Homo sapiens: one gene and its partners. The protein of the gene in region 1 interacts with the protein of each later gene in a pairwise test. Each region holds a gene or a part of one and is shown in the gene's direction. Other genes may lie near its edges.

Evidence for each region.
Region 2: the proteins of ZNF655 (region 1) and FKBP6 interact in binary tests that used the Homo sapiens proteins (3 or more experiments, as listed by UniProt).
Region 3: the proteins of ZNF655 (region 1) and DPF2 interact in binary tests that used the Homo sapiens proteins (3 or more experiments, as listed by UniProt).
Region 4: the proteins of ZNF655 (region 1) and CEP57L1 interact in binary tests that used the Homo sapiens proteins (3 or more experiments, as listed by UniProt).

The regions. Positions count from the first base shown.
Region 1 is NC_000007.14:99,568,642-99,572,141, forward strand, and holds part of ZNF655 (zinc finger protein 655), read left to right. Parts: intron 1-3,046; coding exon of another isoform or gene 3,047-3,151; intron 3,152-3,500. UniProt on the Homo sapiens protein: Probable transcription factor.
Region 2 is NC_000007.14:73,334,661-73,338,160, forward strand, and holds part of FKBP6 (inactive peptidyl-prolyl cis-trans isomerase FKBP6), read left to right. Parts: intron 1-3,500. UniProt on the Homo sapiens protein: Has an essential role in spermatogenesis. It is required to repress transposable elements and prevent their mobilization, which is essential for the germline integrity.
Region 3 is NC_000011.10:65,343,852-65,347,351, forward strand, and holds part of DPF2 (zinc finger protein ubi-d4), read left to right. Parts: intron 1-139; coding exon 140-218; intron 219-728; coding exon of another isoform or gene 729-770; intron 771-1,814; coding exon 1,815-1,952; intron 1,953-2,078; coding exon 2,079-2,207; intron 2,208-2,395; coding exon 2,396-2,508; intron 2,509-3,500. UniProt on the Homo sapiens protein: Plays an active role in transcriptional regulation by binding modified histones H3 and H4. Is a negative regulator of myeloid differentiation of hematopoietic progenitor cells. Might also have a role in the development and maturation of lymphoid cells.
Region 4 is NC_000006.12:109,144,007-109,147,506, forward strand, and holds part of CEP57L1 (centrosomal protein CEP57L1), read left to right. Parts: intron 1-1,212; 5' UTR 1,213-1,215; coding exon 1,216-1,375; intron 1,376-2,751; coding exon 2,752-2,931; intron 2,932-3,500. UniProt on the Homo sapiens protein: Centrosomal protein which may be required for microtubule attachment to centrosomes.

The DNA.
Region 1 (3,500 bases):
GAGATGGAGTCTCACTATGTTCCCCAAGCAGGTCTCAAATTCCTGAGCTCATGAGATCCTCCTGCCTTGACCTCTCAAAGTGCTGGGATTACACGTGTGAGCCACCATGCCTGGTCCATAGATCCTCTTGATTCGTTTGTTGGTTGATTGACTGACTGACTGACTGACAGGATCTCACTCTCACCCAGGCTGGAGTACAGTGGTGTGATCTTGGCTCTCTGCAGCCTCGGCCTTCTGAGCTCAAGCGATCATTCTGCCTCTGCCTCCCAAGTAGCTGGGACTACAGGCGTGTGCCACCATGCCTGGCTAATTTTTGTATTTTTTGTAGAGGTGGGATCTCACTATGTTGCCCAGGCTGGTCTCAGACTCTTGGGCTGAAGTGATCTGTCCGTCATGGCCTCCCAAAGTGCTGGGATTACAGGTGTGAGCTTCTGTGCCCAGCCATAGATCCCTTTTAATTAACACTTCTGCGACTCCAATTATTTAGGATCCTGGTTCACCGTATGTTATTCTAATCACTTTTTCTCTGTTGTTTGTATTTACCTTTTACTTCACTGTCAATATTTTATAAATCATATTAGAAAACTCAAGATTTAAATAAAATCAAAAAGTTTTAATACATTAATTTTAAACAGGAAAAATGTAAATAAAGCAAGTGCATATTTTGAAAGCAAAGTTTTGAGTTAAATTTAGGAAATAGGCATTTAGGCTAGTGCCAAGAAAACTTACACGTTCTTTCTGTGTGTAATTTGGAGGAAGGGATGGATTTTGTTCACAGTCATTATTTATTTTTTTTCAGGGCTTGTTAGGAGGCAAAATCATAATTTTTTTTTTACTAGCAGATTGTTTAAAGGCTAGGTTCTGAAATAAGACTGTGCAGGTTTGAAAACTAAGCATTACCAGTTATTGTAACCTTGGGCAAGCTACTTAACCACTCTGAATCTTAGTATTCCCATCTGTAAAATGGCTATAATAATAGTTTCTACGTTTTAAATTTATGGTATTAAATGAGTGAAAACCTAGAGAGCTCTTGGCATGGTACTTTGCACCTACCAAGTACTTAGTAAAACTTAATAATATTTTGATGGTACTGATGATACCCTGTTCTCTCTTCTAAACTGTGATATTGTATCTTTACCTGCTAGGCATTTTCTCTTTTAAAAAAAATTATTTCAGTAGTTTTGGGGGCGTACAAGTGGTTTTTTGTTACATGGATGAATTCTAATACATAGTGGTGAATTCTGAGATTTTAGTGCACCTGTCACTGGAATAGTGTACATTGTACCTAATATATAGTTTTTTATCCCTTGTCCCTTCTCCCACCCTTTCCCTTCTTAGTCTCTGAAGTCCATTTTATCACTCTGTATGCCTTTGCGTACTCATCTGCTGGGCATTTTCTCTTATACCTTCGTACATTACATTAAACACACATCTAAAATCAAACCCCTCATCCCACATGAAGACCACCTTTTTTGTTGTGCATATGTGTTTTAAGTGTAGATATGGAGTAAGCAGCCAGAATTTATTTCAGTTACCAAATATCGACAGACACTTTAAATATCTCAGAGTTAAAAGTTGCAAATTATGTTATTGGAATTCTGAGAACAATATTGATTGCTGCTTCATGTTACACTAACTTTACTTTTTAAACTTCTGAAACGATTTCATTTGACAGGGTGGACCTTAATTAAATATATGTCCACAAGGAGAGTTGACTCTAAATGTCCCACAGGATTTCAGAAACACAGTAAATACCTTTCTTCTATCTATTCTGATCTCCTTGCTCATAGGCTCTCACATGGAATCTTTGGGGCAGCTGTCAGTTCTTCATATTTTCCAGCCCCAATGCCCTTTTTATAAAATTGGGTAGCTGTTAATACATTGATACTTGGGCGCACAGAGTTGGCACTCAATAAGTAGCCGTTAAGTAAATTAATCAAAAGAATTGCAAGATACAAGATACCTGGTCCCTTCTATCAAAGAGTTTATAAATCAAGTATGAATGACAATACCTGAAACCACTTAAAAAAAAATCTATGTAAACACCGTTATATGTGACATGTCAGGATAAGAGGGAACAACTAATAAATTTTGTACACATTCAGTAAATGGAGAGAAAGGTTTTTGGAGATGAGGGGCTTGAGCCAGACCTTGTATGTGTGCTATTAGAAGCTTTCTGGGCTGGACACATTTAAAAACTGCCCTTTGATACTAATAGTATTAAAATTCTGTCTCCTTGGAAGCAGACTGCCTGTTGCTTTAGCTTTAAAAGAGATTTATATCCAAGCATTGCATTATGCAAGCCATAGAAAGACTGTTTTATGTGAAGATGCACTGATTGCACTTCCCTCTCTATATTTTATTGTAGTTAGTTGTTTAGAGCTGTCTCTGTGTAGAGTGTGAGGTCCTTGAGGGAAGGGACCTTCTTGGCCTCTTATCCCCTGCATACTTTGCATAGAGGAGGCACTTCATAAATGTTTGTTGAATAAATGCTACACTCCTAATGGGTAAGAATGTGTCATATTACTCTTTGTTTTCTTATGTGTACTGAAACAAATTGTTTCTTGAGATTGGTCCTTAGAATATTTATTCAGTTTTCACTGATTCTCTTGCTACAGGTTAGCTAACCATGCAGCAGGTGCTTGAGTTTCACCTTTCTCCAGTCCAGCAGAATTACATTTTGATGACCTCCATTTTGATACTTGTAGACCAGATCTAATCCGAAGATTAATCTTTAGGTAACAGATGGAGAGTGATAATGATAACTTCTGTGAAGACAAACCCATGCACACATTCTGTTGTCTGAATAATATTTAAATGAATCCTTCTGCTCCCAAGTCATCAACTTGCCCCTTAACACACATCCCTCTAGAGCACAAATCTGAGCTCCTTGTAGATCTTTGCCCTCTTCACTCTCCAGACCTTCCTAATTAATGTCTTCTCAGAATCGACCTTCTGTCTCTCTTAATCATTAGTTAAAAGAAAAAGTGGCAGATGTAGGACCTGGGGATACATTGCCACATCCCATTTCCTTCTCTATGAGCAGGATTTCCAATTTCCAAGCCTGATGGGATCTCCCAGCTGGAACAGGATCTACAGGTCTTTGATCTGGAAACTAAGACTAGAGAAGTCTTAAGAGATGACTGCTCAGGTGAGTAAGGCAGAATCAGATAGAATTAGTAGGGAAGTAAAGTTCAATTGTTGAGCCAAGTTGTAGCTGCTTTGGCACTCAGAATGAAGAGCTCTGTGTGTGTCCTAGCATGGAGAGTTCCTTCCTTTTCCCTTCAGTTAGGTTGACCCTTTCCATTTGTTTAGTATCCGTGCACATGTCGTACTAGACCCCAATCAAGTTGCTTATCTAAAATTCTTTCAGCTGTTTCCCTATTATTTCCTTACTCTGCTGAACATGTCCGCTGTTTTACCTCACTGCTCCTGTTTATGCCCTTAACTTCTGCTGTTGAGATTTTGTGCCTGTTTTTCAGAGTAAATAAACTTTTCTT
Region 2 (3,500 bases), about 26 Mb from region 1:
CCCCTCCCTAGCATTCTGTTCTTGTTTCATGTGTATATTATTTTATATATTTAGACTGTCGATTATAATTTAATCTCATTCTTTTTCTGTTTGGTTTTTCTACATATTGGGGACTGTGTCCTTTTGCACTAAGTTTGTCAATGACCTAAAGATGGTTTATTTCTCACTCATGTAAAAGGCTAGAGTAGAGGCATGCAAGCTAGGGCCAGTTGGTGACTCTGCTGCAGATATTTTCAGATACCCAGTTCTCATTTCTGGGGTGAGACTCTGGCCTTGTAGTCCAAGATGAGGGTCTCTGAGTTCTAGCAGCAGAAGGGAAGAAAGGCTGAAGGCATGTACAGCTCTGTTAAGGAAGGTCCTTGTCATATGATGCTTCTACTGAATTATGTTTTCCAGAACCTGTTCTCCAGGCTTTGCCTAGCTGCAAAGAAGCCTAGCAAATATCTAAATTCTGGTTGTACGTGTTCCTGGCCAAAAAAAAAAAAAAAAAAAGTCCTATTACTGTGAAGGAAGGGAGGGCAGCTGCTGGGAGGCAGGAGGCCACCTCTTTCACAGAGGGTTTCCTCAAATGGCTGGTGATCTTTGACCACTAAGATTTAAAAGAGACATCACAAAGCTGATTGGGAGCTCCAGGTGCTTGGTGGGGCAGGTTGCAGTGTGGTCAAAGACAGCCTGCACACATTAGAGTATGTAGGTGTTTCCTCAGGGTCCATTGAGTCCTCCTCTTTCTGCCCCGTGTGTGTGCCAAGGGACCGGCATTCTGGGAGCCAAGCTGGGCAGCAGGACAGAGGTTCTCACTGTCTGGTATTGAGATTCCTTTTCATAGCCGCGTTACCAGTATACCACCTTCCTGCTGTCTGCTCCAGCCTGCCCCCAAGTCAAGGGCCTCTTTGGTTCCATTTTCCCAGAAAGGAGACCTCGTGATTGCTGAGGCCATCTGGACACATAGGGGCAGTGGACGGGGTGGGGAACATTTGACCTGACCTCCTTTATTCAGCCCCACCAGATAGCTCTAATTCCTGGTTCCATCAGTTCCTAGGTCTCTCCAGGCTCTGAGGGGCAGACCGGTCCCTTTTACATTGGCACCACTCTGCCAAATCAGTCATCACACTGCCACCCACCCTGAACCTTTGGGTTTATTGGTCCTTTTCCTGTCCTTTGCTTGTGTTGGAGTACTACCTGTCTTAGTCCCTTAGGGTTGGAGAAAGTAGGGATGTGTGTGGAGCCTGCCTTGCTGAGCCAGAGGTTTTGCACGTCTTTTCCTAGTGGAAAGTTTCTCCGTCTTTGGAGCAGCGGACTGACATTGTCAGCACCACTGTGTCTCCACCTTTTGCTCAGCATTGTCTGGGTCACACAAGTATGGGGTTTCCTGCTTTCAAGGGATTTGAATCTAGTTAGGGAGTTAAATGCAGCTCCAACAGCTAACCAATACCTATGGTCTGAATGTTTGTGTCTCCCCAAAATGTGTATGTTGAAACCTAATCATCCATGTGATATTAAGAGGTGAGGCCTCTGGGAGATGATGAGGTCATGAAGATGAAACCCTCTTACATGGAGTTAGTGGCCTTATAAAAGAGGTCCCTGAGAGCTGTCTTGTCCTTTCCACCATAAATTCTCGGCAGGAAAAAAGATGAACAAAGTGATCAGAACCTATTCAGGCCACAGTTGGTAGATTCCTAGTCAGAAACATAGGTTACATCTAAGGAATCATAGGTGATAGGAGGCGGCCAGATTCAGGAAGACATTCAAATATGTGTGGATGGATTTGGACTTGATGAAGTGGATGGCAGGGAACCACTGAGGAAGAGTGTGTTGATAAAAGTCATATTCGGGGAAGAGGCAGTAGTTGTGCTGGAGCTCGTGAAAACTCAAAATTTCAATTGTAAAATTTTCAGGAGTTTTGTGCCCTCGTTAATGTCACTTTGGTAGTTTGAAATCAGCTCTGGGAGGAATATTTACAGCATAGGAATAGGCAAATGCTACAAACAGGGGTCCACCTCCCCCGAGAGCTGGCTATTAAACATGTACCAGCACACCACTGTGTGCAGGACATGTCAAATGACAAACTTCATTTTAATGAGGCTCTGTTTCATGTTAGGCACCGTGCTGGGTGTGCTGCGGCTGAACCTGTTAACAGGGTCCAGGAATGTGTTAAAGCAGCTGTGAGTTGTGCAAATAGAAGAAAAAGCTCTGGAAGTACTTCCACAAAATGGATGGTTAGACTTGATGACGTTGTATATGATGAAGTTGTATATATAAGAGATCAAGGAAACAGAAGAAGGGAATGACTTGAAACTTCCTGGTCTGAGAAAAAAATTTAAACCAAGGAATAACTGGGAAAGAAATGTGTTACTTTCAATTTTGATTACTCATGGGAATGAGCAGGTAAGCAGGGCCTGTAGAAAACTGTTTCCAGCTGACAACTTGCTTCACAATTTCATTTGGGTATGAGAGCAGGGTTCAGGCGTGAGGTTCCAGCTGGTGATGTGAATGGGAGCTGAATCCATTCAGAAGGTATGGAGACAGTTGATGGGAACTTGCCTGGTGAATGCCCAGAGTTTAGAGATGGAAGGGAGGACCAAGGAAGGCTCATGACTTTCTGCCTGTGCTGCCATCTCCTGACACATTTTCTCCAGTTCTTCCATGTTCTTTTTTTTTTTTTTTTTTTTTTGAGACAGAGTCTCACTCTATCACCCAGGCTGGAGTGTACTGGCGCCATCTCGGCCTCACTACAACCTCCGCCTCCCAGGTTCAAGGGATTCTCCTGCCTCAGCCTCCCAAGTAGCTGAGATTACAAGCGCCTGCTACCACATCCAGCTCATTTTTTGTATTTTTAGTAGAGGTGGGGTTTCCATGTTGGCCAGGCTGATCTTGAACTCCTGACCTCAGGTGATCCGCCCGCCTCGGTCTCCCAAAGTGCTGGGATTCCAGGTGTGAGCCATCGTGTCCGGCCTTCCAGTTCTTCCATTCTACTTGCACCTTCCAAATGGAGTTCCAGGGAGTGCAGGCTCTGCCTTCATCCATTTTTTTTTGTTTTACTATTTTTTTTCTTGTTGTTGAGATATGATTCACATACCATAAAATGTGTGCTTTTAAAGTGTCCAATTCAGTGGTTTTTAGTATATTCACAAAGTTGTGCAGCCATTGCCACTATCTAATTCCAGAACATTTTCCTCACCCCGAAATGAAACTCACAATTCTTTGGCCTCAGATAGCCTCTGTTCTCCTTTGTTTCTATGGATTTGCCTATTCAGGACATATTTTGTAACTAGAATTGTCAAATATGTGTCATTTTGTGGCTGTCTTATTTCACTTAGCATGTTTTTGAGGTTTATCCATGTTGTAGCTTGTACAAACCTCATTCTTTTTTTGTTTTTTGTTTTTTATGAGACAGAGTCCCTGTTGCCCAGGCTGGAGTGCAGTGGCACGATCTCGGCTCACTGCAACCTCTGCCTCCCAGGTTCAAGCGATTCTCCTGCCTCAGCCTCCCAAGTAGCTGG
Region 3 (3,500 bases), on another chromosome or scaffold:
TGCTGCCTGCATCTTGGGACAGGGTGGCCTAGGGAATTCCTTATTTTATTTCAAGTGAGATTAGCGGCCACTTCCAAAAGAGTCTAACTCCTCAGGCCCAGCTACCAAAATAAGGGTGTCTCTTTGCTCTTCTTGGCAGGGTAAGGGTGTGGGCAGTGCCCGTAAGAAGCTGGATGCTTCCATCCTGGAGGACCGGGATAAGCCCTATGCCTGTGACAGTGAGTGCCTCACAAGTGGGTGGGTAGACCTTGCCTTGGACCCAGCTCCTGCTCTGGATATGAGAGGAGGGAGGGTTGTGTTTTTGCCCAGAGTATTAAAACAAACCTGGGCTCTTGTCCTGCCTGCTGACTGCTTCCGTCTGAGACCCCTGGGAGGCCTGGGTCCCTGCTATATGACGGGTGGGACCTGCATGCTCTGGGAAAGATTTCTGCCATCCTCTGGGGTAGGGTTGCTTGTGGGGGCCACAGCAGGCAGGGTTGGCCTCTCAACAGATGGCCTGCAGGTCTCCTGGCCTCAGTTAAGCCAGGGCCCCAGGGGTCTGACACTGAGTTTTTCAACGTCTGTTCTCTTTTTCTTTCTGTCTGCCTTGCCCCACTTCTGTCCCTCCACCCTGGGAGCACCATCGCCGCTGGGGTTTCTCTCTCGTTTGCTCTGCTTTCCTGCTGCTGCTGCTCCTGTCTCAAGTGTATCAAGGCCTTCTTCTCATGACTTTTCTTTCTGTCTTTCAGATAGTTTCAAACAAAAGCATACCTCGAAAGCGCCCCAGAGAGGTAGCTCTCTCAACTTTTCAGACTTGTGGTTTTCCTTTCCCTTTTTCCCTCTTCCCTTGTTCCTCCTGCCTTTCTCATTTCCTGGGATGCTAGCTTTAAAATCTCTGGAATGGCATGGGGGTAGGAGCAGTGGAATTTCTGCTGTGCTCTACTCCTCAAAGTCCTGAAGGCTGCCTTTACCACTGCTTGTTTCCCACAAACCTGCTCCTAGAGCTGCTCGGCCCAGTGCATGGGGTGGCTTCAGAAGCATTATCAGGAGCCCATTACAATCAGACCCTTCCGCTCCCTCCCCAGACCAGGCAGCTGGTGGTCAGCTCATGTTCCCCACTGCCCCACCACCTCCTCCTGCCATCCTCTCTCCCCACTCCTTTCCTGCTGGCCCCCTTGCCCTTCTTGGTATTACTTCTCAAGATGACAAAATGCCTCATGGGGATCTGCTTTCCTTGCTGATTGGCAGGCCTGGACAGGGCAATTACATGGGAGTGTGCTTGAATTTCTTTGGGGACCAACTGCCCAACTGGCTTCATTGATAGGCTATCCCCAAGAAACCCATCCCCTGCTTGTTTACCCACATTCAGGGGAGATGGGCTCCATGGTGTGTGGGGTAGCATGAGCCTCCCACATTTACTGAGGGGTAAAAAAGTTTGGAGTCTTATCCACTTTTCCCCCTTCCTGCCACCCCAAAGATATAGGAATATCCTTCCCTTTCCTGACCTGGAGCGTCCCAGACTGTTAGTATATCCCAGAGCAACTAACTGGTGATGGGGCAAGGGCTAAGCCCCCCAAAAGTCAACATGGAAGAGCAGTGGTGGCCATGGGGTTGGAGTTCAGGAGGGAAAAGAGCCCCAGAAGCTAGAGAGCCCCACGGCCTGATGCTCCTGGCTGAGGGGAAGTGGCCGTCACTCAAGGCCTGTCCCAGAGTGGAGCTGCTAGGGGAAGGGATGGTTGCCCTCTGCCTCAGGTGGAGCCCCCACAGCTTGCAGGGATGGGGACATGGCACTCTTGTATCCTAACACCTTTCTCTGCAATCTTCTTCCCACTCAGTTTGTGGAAAACGTTACAAGAACCGACCAGGCCTCAGTTACCACTATGCCCACTCCCACTTGGCTGAGGAGGAGGGCGAGGACAAGGAAGACTCTCAACCACCCACTCCTGTTTCCCAGAGGTCTGAGGAGCAGAAATGTAAGCTGAGGTGTCAGAAGTGGTGGGCAAGCAGAAGTTGGCCTGGTTATGAAAACCACTCCTTGCATGGGTGTTGAGTGGCTCAGGGACCCCCATGGGTGTCATCAAAACTCTTTCTCTCTGTAGCCAAAAAGGGTCCTGATGGATTGGCCTTGCCCAACAACTACTGTGACTTCTGCCTGGGGGACTCAAAGATTAACAAGAAGACGGGACAACCCGAGGAGCTGGTGTCCTGTTCTGACTGTGGCCGCTCAGGTACTGCTTCCCGTGAAGGCTGCTGCTTTGCCCAGTCCCCAAGGGGCTCTTGGCTTGCTGGCCTCTAGGGCTGTCATAACCAGCCCACCTCGCTTTTCCTAACCAAGAGAAGATGTAGCCACAGGCAGGAGCTCCTCTCTTCCCCCCGCATTTCCGACTGTCTGTCTCACTCACTTCCCCCACTACAGGGCATCCATCTTGCCTCCAATTTACCCCCGTGATGATGGCGGCAGTGAAGACATACCGCTGGCAGTGCATCGAGTGCAAATGTTGCAATATCTGCGGCACCTCCGAGAATGACGTGTGTATCCCCGCCCCCTCCTCAGCATGGCTCCTTCTGGGCTTTTACTGCTGTTTGCACAGTTCCCTCTAAAGTGAGCTTTCTTTTAAAAAGGGAGCAGGATCCCTCCCACATGCCACACGCCCCTCCCTAGCATCTCAGTCAGAACTCTGATTTGTTGCCAGATATATATTGAGTGCTGATTTTATGTCAGACACTGTTCTAGTCACTAAAGATGCTAAAGACAAACAAGGTCCCTGCCTCATGAGATTTACATTCTTACAGGAACAACAATAAGCAAGGATGTAAATGAGATTTGTATAATGTGCCATGAAAAAAACGAAATCAGTACTGTGGCAGAGAATAATTGCATAAGTGATTTATTTTGATGGTCAGGTATGGCTCTTCTGGGAGGGTGATGCTGGTGTTGAAATTTTGGTGATACCAAGGAGCCAGTCAAGATTTGGAGGTAGAGGAATCCCAGGAAAGGAGCAGCCAGCGCCAAGGCCTTATGTTGGACAAGCCAGATGACAGGGCATGGGAGAGTATGGTGGGCAATGAGATGAGAGAGGCAAGCACTGCCAGATCTCTGGGGCCTCGGGTTTTATTCTAGGTACAACAGGACACTGTTGAAGGGTTTTACTCGGGAAGTGACATGGTTATTTATGTATTTATTTATTTACTTTTTTTTTTTGAGATGGAGTCTTGCTCTGTCGCCCAGGCTGGAGTACAGTGGCACAATCTCAGCTCACTGCAACCTCTGCCTCCTGGGTTCAAGTGATTCTCCTGCCTCAGCCTCCCAAGTAGCTGGGATTACAGACACGTGCCACCACACCCGGCTAATTTTGTATTTTTAGTAGAGATGGGGTTTCTCCATGTTTGCCAGGCTGGTATCGAACTCCTGACCTCCGGTGATCCGCCTGCCTCAGCCTCCCAAAGTGCTGGGATTATAGGCGTGAGCCACTGCACCCAGCTATTTATTTATTCTTTATGTATTTATTTATTTATTTTGA
Region 4 (3,500 bases), on another chromosome or scaffold:
AGATGCGGTATCCCATGGGGAGCAGGCAGTGTCTGAGATAGCTGGTACTAATCACAATAGCAAAATATGGTTACCTTGCAAGAACAAAAAGCATCAAGTATCTTAGCAAACCTTAGGCTTTATAGCCTCTAATTTAGACCAATCAGAATGTTCTAGGAGATTGCCAATCATGGCAATGGCTAAAGTAGAAAATTCTAGGAAGTGAAGTGTGCCTTCTGCCCTTCCAGAAAATACTATCCTGGGAAGTGCCTGCCTTTGCCTTGTGAATTGAGGAGGTGGTGAAATCATGGAAAATGTACAACTCTCAAAAATCAAAATAGGCTAATGTTATAGTGTAATTCTTGGATTTCCATTTTGAAGCAAGCTTTCTTGCTTAAAATTCTTCCAGTGAGTTATTTTTTTGTAAGCAGTTATCACCTTATGTGATTATGAATTAATTTAATTAACATTGACTGGAATCTATTAAAAAATAGAATACATTTCTAAAATATTTAAATTGCAGAAAGGAAAATAAAATTATTTGGAAATTTTAGACCAAAAATTACCTGCTTAAATGGTTAAAAGGGCTCTCTTACCAAAACAAAAACAACAACAAAATAAAAACCAGACTAACAAAACTAAGTAGTCTAGATTCTTCAGATTTGGAAACTTTCTAATCTAGATGATTAAAATGCTAATACATTAAGCAGAGGTGTGTCTTATTCAAAGGTTAAATTCCGATATTTCATATATCCAAAATTACCCTTGAAAATCCCTTAGGAAGCCATACATTAGAATTCAACAATCAGTATTAGAGAATCAGTGTATATTGTTGGTTTGTGTTTAAAAGCTCAGTTATCTTTTAGAATATGTACTTTCTCTTTAAATCCTAGAGTCACACTGCTTATAGAGAAGTGCTCAGACTATGATAGGTATATGGGATTTATGGGTAACTGAGAAACCAGTAAATTCAAATCACTCATGTGATGCTTACTCCAGGGTATATGATTATTGAAAATCAGGCAGAATTGTCAGTACTGCTTACACAAGAAATAGTAACTTTTCTTTCTTTTATTGCCAAGCCTATTAGAGTTGAATTTATAATTAAGTTCATAAAGATACAACTCCACAGTATATGATTATGTTTTTAAAGTTTCACCTGAATTTTTGTATAATGCATTTACCCTTAAAATAGGAAAGCATGATACTATATCATTCCTTTATTCTCTACAGATAATGGATTCTGAATTAATGCATAGTATAGTAGGAAGCTATCATAAACCTCCAGAAAGAGTATTTGTTCCCTCATTCACCCAGAATGAACCATCTCAGAATTGCCATCCTGCAAACTTAGAAGTTACCTCTCCTAAGATACTTCATAGCCCAAATAGCCAAGGTAATGCTGATATAAAATTTGAAGAATGGTAAAAACATGCTATAAAAAACTTTTCATATTTATGTGGAATACAATATGATTGCATATTTAATCTTAACAAAACTCCTAACTTTGATTCTGTTGCTAAAAGTTTCTATGAACTTAGACAAATTACTTGACATTTTTTATTTTGGCTTCTTCAGCCATAAAATGAAGATTAATACAACCAGCTGGACACATATCACAGAGTTATCATAAAAACATCATTTGAAAACAGGAAAATACTCTTTGAAGAATAAAAGGTCAGATTTGGAATACTAAACTAGATGATTAGAATGTTAGTGAATTAAATGGAATTGCATCTTATTCAAGAATTAGATTCAGAAATTACATATATCCAAAATTATTCTTGAAAATATTTTAGGAAGCCAGTATATCAGAGTAACTACAAAATACTAGTATTTTAACGTTTAAAATAGAAATGTAGGAGGATCTTAAAATTGAATTAGGAAAACATTTTATTACTCCAGGCATATTTTAAGCTGTGCAAATTCTTTTCTGAGATGCTGATATCACCTACTTTTAAAATCTTCTATAATAATGGTTGCTGTTAATAAATAAACTAGTTTTGTGGAATAAACTATAAGAAATAATAATGCAAATCAATGTGCCAGCTACAGATATCATGTAAAGAGGAATAAATATAATTTATTTATCTCATTTATAAAAACAAAATGGTAATCTCTAGCAAGCATCTTTCTAATTTGATATAAACTATATGACAGTTAAAACTCTGAACTTATCTGAAGCATGAAGATATTAATATAGTTGAATATAAGTCACAGTAGTATAGAATACTATTATCTTTCAGGTCTGACATCAGGTAAACCATTAGGTTATAATTATCCTGGTTCTTAATACTGCATCATGGACAAAGAAACAGTAAATATGTGTGATTTGACTAAAACGGAATACCTCAAGAACTGAGAAAAAAAGCCTATAACTTTAAACCTAAATTGCCATGTTAATTAGTAGAAATTATATTTTAATGTTCTTATTCATATTTATACTCTTATGCTCCCCAGACTGTACATTGTCTTTAAGTCCTTTCATTTGTAAATATTTTATTAAATTAAAATTGTGGTTATTACCTTTCTCAGTCTTAGAAACCACTAAATACAATAATAGATATAGTGTTTTTACAAGATATATTAGAGAGAAAATGTGCGCCTCTTCAAAGTGTTAGTCATTATTTTTCATTTTTTGAAGAATATGCATTACTTGTACATTTTTCTGGCTCAGTAACAAAAATATACTGCTTATTTTTCTTATGTTACTTTGATTGTAAGTGTTCAGAAACTTTCACTTAAAATATCAACAAAATTTTTTTTCAACAGCTCTTATTTTAGCCTTAAAAACTCTTCAGGAAAAAATTCATCGTTTAGAGCTGGAGAGAACACAAGCTGAAGATAACCTGAACATTCTTTCCAGAGAAGCAGCACAGTATAAGAAGGCCTTAGAGAATGAAACAAATGAGAGAAATCTGGCACACCAGGAGCTGATAAAGCAGAAAAAAGGTAAGAAATGCAGTAGTTCTCAGAAACCGGGGGTTACTGGAGTTTACAGTTCAAAAATAATAAACCTAGTCTAAGCCGATGTACTCAGATATCTTTATTCTTATATATATTCAAACTTCATGACTTTGTTCTCAGACCTTTTGATATTTGTGAGAAAAAGATACAGTTTTGAACTTACCTCTATCATATCTTACTTATCATAATTCATAAATTCTAGAAATTAAAGGAAAAATTAAGATTTTAGACAAGTTGTGTTTAAAAATTAGAATATTTTCAGAATAGCCAACAAACTCCAATTTAACCCGTAATTGAATATTTATTTTTTATTTTATTTATTTGTATTTGCAGTTAACACTAAACTTTAGAATTTGAAATACAGAACAACACTAGTAATTAAACAATGTAAAACCAATAAAAATGAATACAAAAGAATTTTATTTAATGAGAGGAAAGCAAGGTTAATTAGAAGACATAGGCAAATGGGGGAGGCTTCTGTGGAAATTATGAAAAATTTTAGAAATTTAGAACATAAGTCTTTTAAGTAATTTCACTTCAAAACTTAAGACTTT